Linked DNA regions of Homo sapiens. The protein of the gene in region 2 purifies or fractionates together with the protein of the main gene of each other region. This does not show direct contact. Each region holds a gene or a part of one and is shown on either strand. Other genes may lie near its edges.

The links.
Region 1: the proteins of CD9 (region 2) and ITGA6 purify together in Homo sapiens (co-immunoprecipitation; 3 studies listed by BioGRID and IntAct, with this or other methods). This does not show direct contact.

The regions. Positions count from the first base shown.
Region 1 is NC_000002.12:172,490,076-172,493,727, reverse strand, and holds part of ITGA6 (integrin alpha-6 isoform b preproprotein), read right to left. Parts: intron 2,705-3,652; coding exon 2,606-2,704; exon of another isoform or gene 2,508-2,605; coding exon 2,397-2,507; exon of another isoform or gene 2,304-2,396; coding exon 2,205-2,303; exon of another isoform or gene 1-2,204. UniProt on the Homo sapiens protein: Integrin alpha-6/beta-1 (ITGA6:ITGB1) is a receptor for laminin on platelets. Integrin alpha-6/beta-1 (ITGA6:ITGB1) is present in oocytes and is involved in sperm-egg fusion.
Region 2 is NC_000012.12:6,206,870-6,210,521, reverse strand, and holds part of CD9 (CD9 antigen), read right to left. Parts: intron 1-3,652. UniProt on the Homo sapiens protein: Integral membrane protein associated with integrins, which regulates different processes, such as sperm-egg fusion, platelet activation and aggregation, and cell adhesion.

The DNA.
Region 1 (3,652 bases), on a different chromosome or scaffold from region 2:
TGGATTCAGTTTTCTTATCTCAATTTGAGATTTGGGGACTTTAAGGGGACCAAGTGCCACAGAGTCAAAGAACAGAAGCCCTGAAGTCAGACAATTACAGGTTTCAATTGAGGGTCTCAAATTATATCCCCTCTCTGAGTCTGCTTCCTTGTTTGTAAAATGAGTACAATGTTTACCCTTGGCATTCTTCTGAAGTTTGAATGATAGAGTATAAAGTATCTAGTAAGCTGCAGACATTTTATTAAGGCTTCATTAATGTTAGTCCCTTCCCTCTAAAGTGTTCTCTGTCTAGCTCTGAAATCTCAGTGATTTTCAGAGTTGCTGATTTACAGTTATAGAAAGCTATACCTGCTGCCTTTATAGATGCAGAGAAAGGATCCTTAGGGAAGGTGTGGTTTATTTGAAAGTCCCTTATGATGCCTGTTGATATGTCCTGGAGAGACCGGGACAGTGCTGGTTGATACCACTTATCGCAGCAGCTTGCCCAGTACAGCATTTGTCTCAGGCAAATGTATCCTGGGGCTGGGTGCAGTGGCTCACACCTATAATCCCAGCATTTTGGGAGGCTGAGGCAGGCGGATTGCTTGAGTCCAGGAGTTAAAGACCAGCCTGGGCAACATGGTGAGACTCTGGCTATACAAAAAAAACTGAAAAATTAGCTGGGCGTGGTGGCATGCCTGTGGTCCCAGCTACTCAGGAGGTGAGACAGGAGGATTGCTTGAGCCCAGGCATTCAAGGCTGCAGTGAGCTGTGTTTGCGCCACTGCACTCCAGCCTGGGTAACAGAGCAAGACTCCATCTCAAAAAACTAAATAAAAACAAAAATGTATTCTTGCTTGGATAATAAATCGTAAGGACTGCTATATTTCAGAAAACAGAATGATTAGGGAGGCTCCCTGAATTTTCAGCTAGCTAAATGACTGAAGCCAGAACATTTCCATAAGTAGACTGGCAGATTAACTTAAGAACAGTAATTCACAGTATTTCTTTCTCCAGTCTCTTTTGCAAAACATTCCCATTCATTATTCCCACCATGACATGCAGTCATTCTGCCTCGAGATCTTTATACAAGTCCCTGTGGGTTCTAGACTCCCACAGGGAACCCCTCACTATTGGTTCACTACAAGGTTCTACACCTAGTCCTATTCAACATATTTGTCATTACCTGGATGAAGACATAGAGAACATGCTTCTCAGTTTTTAAAACTTTCAGGGATAGAAAGTTGAGAAAGCAAATGATGAAGCAAGATTCAGAATTACTTTGCAAACTGAAACAATGGACCCAAAGCAAATCACATAAAATGTAAGGATACACTTAAAGGCATACATTTAGATTTTTACAAATAGCTCAAGGACAGGATACTGGAAACACAGCTTGACAACAAATTCTGATGAAAACACCTGGAAGTTTCAGTAGAACACTAACACAAAAATAGCAGCTGCTAGAAATTCAAACATGCTGCTCAGCAATGGTTTGAAAAAGCAAATTTTAGGCAGGTCTGACAGAAGTGTGGTGCCGAGATGCTGAGAGGTAAAGGCCCCAGGGTAAGTGGGACCAAGCAGACCCCACCTCAGCTGCTCTGTCCACGTGGGAATCAAATTGCCCAGGAAGGGAGAGGCCAGGAGCCAGTTCAGCTGTGCCCAATGTGACGCATAACTCAAGAGCTGGGTGCATAAGCTCTGAGAAGAATAAGAAACATCCAAGGAGGCATGACCATTTCCTTCAATTATTTGAGAGGCTGCTACATGGCCAAGAGAGAGAACTTATTTTAGACTTGTTTGAGGGGCATAACCAGGGACTTACAAGGTTCAGTTCAGGAGTCAGCTATGAAGAGATCTTTTTTAATAATTACAGCTGGCCAAGGGATGGGCCATCACTGGGGCATTACACCAATGGCTGCAGCATTAGAGATGGTAGAAGACACAGGTTTCTAGAGGGCTGTGAGGTGCACCCATTCTCTGAATTGAGCCAGTAGTTCTCAAACCTACCATGGGCACTGCTGAACTGGATGACCCTAGATTTACTTCTTTTTTTCAATGATTCTATTAAAATACAGCTTGCAGTGCCAGTACCTTAAGACAGTTTTCTCCGTAATGGGGCTATGAGGGAAATGAGCACCAAAGCACATGACTTCAGGACATGAGTGTGGGGTACAGGGAAAAGAGACATGTTCTGAACCTGAATGAAGCTGGGGAACCTCTCACCTGAGTGCCTGCATTTGGCAGCCTGATATTTTCGGCAGCAGCAGTCACATCAATGAAGGCTCGCATGAGAATGTCCAAGTAGTTCAGTTTGGAATATTCCTGTTTGGAGACAGTGAATGCATTAGGGAAGTGAAAAGTGTCCTAGGCAAAGGCAAATTACTTCCATGGGACAGCCTCAAGCCAAGGTCATACCTCTAGAAATGTGCTGTTCCATAACCTCGAGCGCAAAATAAGAGACGCCTTGCTGTCCAGCCCCCGCAGCGGGCATCTGATGTTCACACAGTTCACGTTCACGCTACAGTTCTAGAGAGAAAAAGAAGAATGGTCATCAAAAGACATTGTTCTGAAGAAATCCTTCCCCTCATCCTCTCAAATATTCACAGCTCTTGAAAAATACTTACAAGAGTCTGGTATTTTCTTTCAGCAAATAAAGAAAATTTTCTGTTATCATCTATCTGTTTTTCAGTAATTTCCCGTTTCTTTCTTGAGTTGTGAGACTCCTGAAAAAAATTATATCCAAAATAGTTCCAATTTATGTAATTCTTTGTCATTACCATACAAGCCTCTTGAGCATATCCTCCCAAACAGTGCCAGATTCACATAATCAACAATATTTGCCTCTCTCCTGCCAAAGGCACAGAAGTAAGTGTAAAACCAGCAAGTATTATCACTCTAAATTCAAGTTTATTGATTTACTCATAGGACTAAGTAATTCATTCCCACTCTGACCTTAAAACTCAGAGAAAGAGAAATATGCTTTCTTTGTTCCTCTGTATCCCCACCAAACTGTGGGCATACTGAGATCAGAGATCAAATCTTATTCCTGTATCCCTAGCCTCCAGCTCTGTTCCTAAAACATGGTAGTCAGCACATCTTGAAGGAATAAGTGACACTGAAGAACAGAGAAAGAAGCAAAAAGACCCATTATATAGCTCATTCAGAGCAGAGCAATGAAAACTAAGCCATACAAGAACTTTTAAAATTGCATTTTCCTTATAGCAAAGATTAGTAATAACCGATTATCTTGATTTTTAACATTGATGAGTAGAAGATCATGCTATAAGCCACCAACTCTGATCACTGATCATACCCAGTCACCTTAGAATTTAAAATAAAAGAAATAAACATGCAAACCTTCATCAAACTGGAACACAAATGATAGGCCAGTTATCTAAGCATGGAGCAGTATAGAGAGAGGGGTTAACAGTACAGGCTTTGACATCAGGCAGAGCAGGGCTTGTATGTGGAATCTGTCTCTTAACGCCTGAGTGACTGAGAGAGTTACTTGCTCTCTGAATCTTAATGTCCTCATCTGTGAAATGGTGAGGATAATGAAACGCCCTCATAGGACCATCCAGAGAATGAAATGAGAAAATGAAAACAAAATGCTTAGCATAGTTCCTGAGACACAATGAGTACACAATAAATAATTACTATTTTAAAAATAA
Region 2 (3,652 bases):
GCCACCTACACCTGGCCTCGCTTGGGGGCAGTGGGGGTAGTGGGTGCTCGAAGAGAGTCTAAAAAAAACAGCCGGTGCTTCCTCTCCCTGGCCTTTGTCCTGAGAGCTTCAGCCACACCCTTGGTTCCACTGGTCATATAGTCAGGGTGGACAGAGGCGGCGCTCTGGGAAGGGACTCTCCAGGGCAACTCGCACATCCTCCTTTCCCCTTGGCTGCACTGTTGCAGCTGCCCATTGGCATTGTGTCCATAGACGGGACCGCAGCCCGTTCAGTGGCCATGGTCCTTCCATCCCCCGTGAAAACAGCCCCAGAGTGGGACCCGGAGCCTCTGCCCTTCCCCAGAACCACCCTGCCAGCAAAGGGCAGAACAAGATGACATCAGCACAGGCCTCTCTGTGTTATAGCCCTGGGCACGAGCTCTCAAGACACACCCCAGGGTCCTAGAGGAGAGTGCCAGCCTCCCATGACAAAGAAGGCCAAAGTGTCCCTCCTCATCCTAGAAGATAATCTAATTTCTATTTGAAATGAGCAGTCCCAGCTGGGCGCGGTGACTCACGCCTGTAATCCCAGCACTTTGGAAGGCCGAGGTGGGCGTATCACCTGAGGTCAGCAGTTCGAGACCAGCCTGGTCAACGTGGCAAAACCCCATCTCTACTAAAAACACAAAAATTAGCCGGGCATGGTGGTACATGCCTGTAATCCCAGCTACTCAAGAGGCTGAGGCATGAGAATCGCTTGAACCCAGGAGGCAGAGGTTGCAGTGAGCCGAGATTGTGCCACTACACTCCAGCCTGGGCAACAGAATGAGACTCCATCTCAGAAAAAAAAAAAAAAAAAAAAAGAAATTTGCAGTCTGGGTCTCTAAAGGGTTGTGTCTTAGGGAGCCAGGGCTACAATTTGACTAGAGAGGAGGAAAGGAGAGTATGAAGAGATTTTCTCAGGCTTGTAGACAGGAAGCTTTAAAACATCTGAGCTTAGCAATAATAAATTTAAATCCACAGTCCCACATTGTGAGAAAGAAGATGTTTACATTGCACCATGGAGAGCAGGAGGAATATGTCTTAGTGGGAAGGGCCTCCCGTCTCTAGGAACGGGGCCGCTGAGGGAGGTATGGATGACTCCCCACCCAGAAAACATCCAGTGGAGTTGGGCATAAATCTGGGGTGTGCATGCACACTACACACTGCAACTGCCCACCTACAAGGGAAGACATGATGTGGATTCAAACACCAGATTTCTATTGACTTGAAAAGCTACGACGAGCCCGGTGCGGTGGCTCACGCCTATAATCCCAGCACTTTGGGAGGCAGAGGTGGGTGGATCACCTGAGGTGAGACCAGCCTGGCCAACATGATGAAATCCCATCTCTACTAAAAATACAAAAATTAGCTGGGCGTGGTGGCATGTGCCTGTAGTCGCAGCTACTCAGGAGGCTGAGGCGGGAGAATCACTTGAACCTGGGAGGCAGAGGTTGCAGTATGCCAAGATTGCGCCACTGCACTCCAGCCTGGGTGACAGAGCGAGACTCTGTCTCAAAACAAACAACAAAAAAAGCAATGATGAGTTCACAAATAGTATGATTTTGCTGATCATTTCATTTAGAGTTTTAATAAATCAGTACACTGTATTATCATACTACATTCAATCAACTTAGGTTTAAAAGACATTAAACTACACACCTGTAATCCCAGCACTTTGGGAGGCTGAGGCGGGTGGATCACCTGAGGTCAGGAGTTCAAGACCGGCCTGATCAACATGGAGAAACCCCGTCTCTACTAAAAATTAGCCGGGCATGGTGGCACACCCCTGTAATCCCAACTACTCAGGAGGCTGAGGCAGGAGAATGGCTTGAACTCAGGAGGCGGAGGTTGCGGTGAGCTGCGATCGCACCATTACACTCCAGCCTGGGCAACAAGAGTGAAACTCCACCTCAAAAAAAAAAGAACAAAAACAAACAAACAAACAAAAAAAACTAAAATCCTTGAATAGGTTTTGAATTAATAAATTCATAATTAATAAAACTGCCTGATTAACTTTATGGTATTTTTAGCCTCAGTCGAGGTTCTTCTCCTATGACCCATGTATTGTGTTGTTTCTGAACTTGGAGACTAACACACAGCTTAGACTGGGAGTGTCAGCAAGGGACTGGCACCTGAAGCTGTGAAGCTCAGTTCCGAGGAGAGGGCTTGGCAGGAGCCACCAGCTGCTTAGCCTGCTCAGAGGTGTCACTGGAAACTTGGATGTGCATTGGGTAAGCTGTGAAGGGTTACTTTTCTTTTCTTTTTTTTTTTTTTTTGAGATGGAGTTTCACTCTTGTCGCCCAGGCTGGAGTGCAATGGCACGATTTCAGCTCACTGCAACCGCCGCCTCCCAGGTTCAAGCAATTCTCCTGCCTCAGCCTCCCAAGTAGCTGGGATTACAGGCACCTGCCACCATGACTGGCTAATTTTGCATTTTTAGTAGAGAGGGGGTTTTTCCATGTTGGCCAGGCTGGTCTCAAACTCCCAACCTCAGGTGATCCGCCTGTCTCGGCCTCCCAAAATGCTGGGATTATAGGCGTGAGCCACCGCGCCTGGCCTGAAGGGTTACTTTTCTAGCAGAGCTCATAAGAGCCACTATTTCTTCCCTCAGGCACAATGCCTGGCTTAAGGATTGAAGAGGAAGGGCTCTTAAGACCCGGGTTTCTGATTTTTCTCCAAGTCAGTAGTCCCCAAACTTCTCTCTACCGGGACCTCCTCTGGAATCACATTAATCCGGGCCCCTCTCCAAGTCAGGCTGCTTTGCCTTTCCCAGTTACTCAACCAGGCTGCTTCTCAACTCCTTGGGAGTGCAGCTCCCCAAATGATCCCTCCTGAGACATTCCTCCTTTCTGCAAGTCCTCAGAGGACGAGACTTTCCGTCTGCATTTGGAGGGAAGGAGAAGAGAGACAGACCTCCTTTCTTCCTGAACAAAGATGAAGCACCAAGCTCTGGGAAAAGCTAAGCCAAGAGGCCCAACCTGGCTGGAAGATCATACAGTTGCATTTTTCGTGTGTACTAGAAATACAGAGCACTCATTAAATTAACCGAGTGAAAACCACTCCTTAGGCAATGATTAAGCTGAGAGTCAGAGGGATGGGTGGGAGGCCAGCTGTCCCATCTGAGCTGCACTTGATCACTAGGGAATTTATCATTTCTAATGCCTTTCACAAAGTCCCCTGTGATGCCCCCATTGCAGCCCCCGGGGAACGGTGAGGCAACCTGCTTCTTATGGCAGAAATATGGGACTCAGGACAGAGCAGGGGTTGTCTGGAAACTGAGGGAGAAAAACCAATATGGGGCATTTATAGCGTGAGCTCAGGCTGGGCGTGGTGGCTCACATTTATGATCCCAGTGCTTTGGGAGTCCGAGGCTGAAGGACTGCTTGAGCCCAGGAGTTCAAGACCAGCTTGGGCGACATAGAGAGACCCTCTCTGTACAAAAAAATTAGCCGGGTATAGTGGTGTGTGCTGTAGTCCCAGCTACTTGAGAGGCTGAGGCCAGGATTGTGTAAAGCCCAGGAGTTTGAGGCTGCAGTGAACTATGATGGTGCCACTATACTGCAGCCTGGGCAATGGAGAAAAAGGCAAAAAAAAAAAAAATGTCTATGGGCCTCCAGAAACAGACATAACA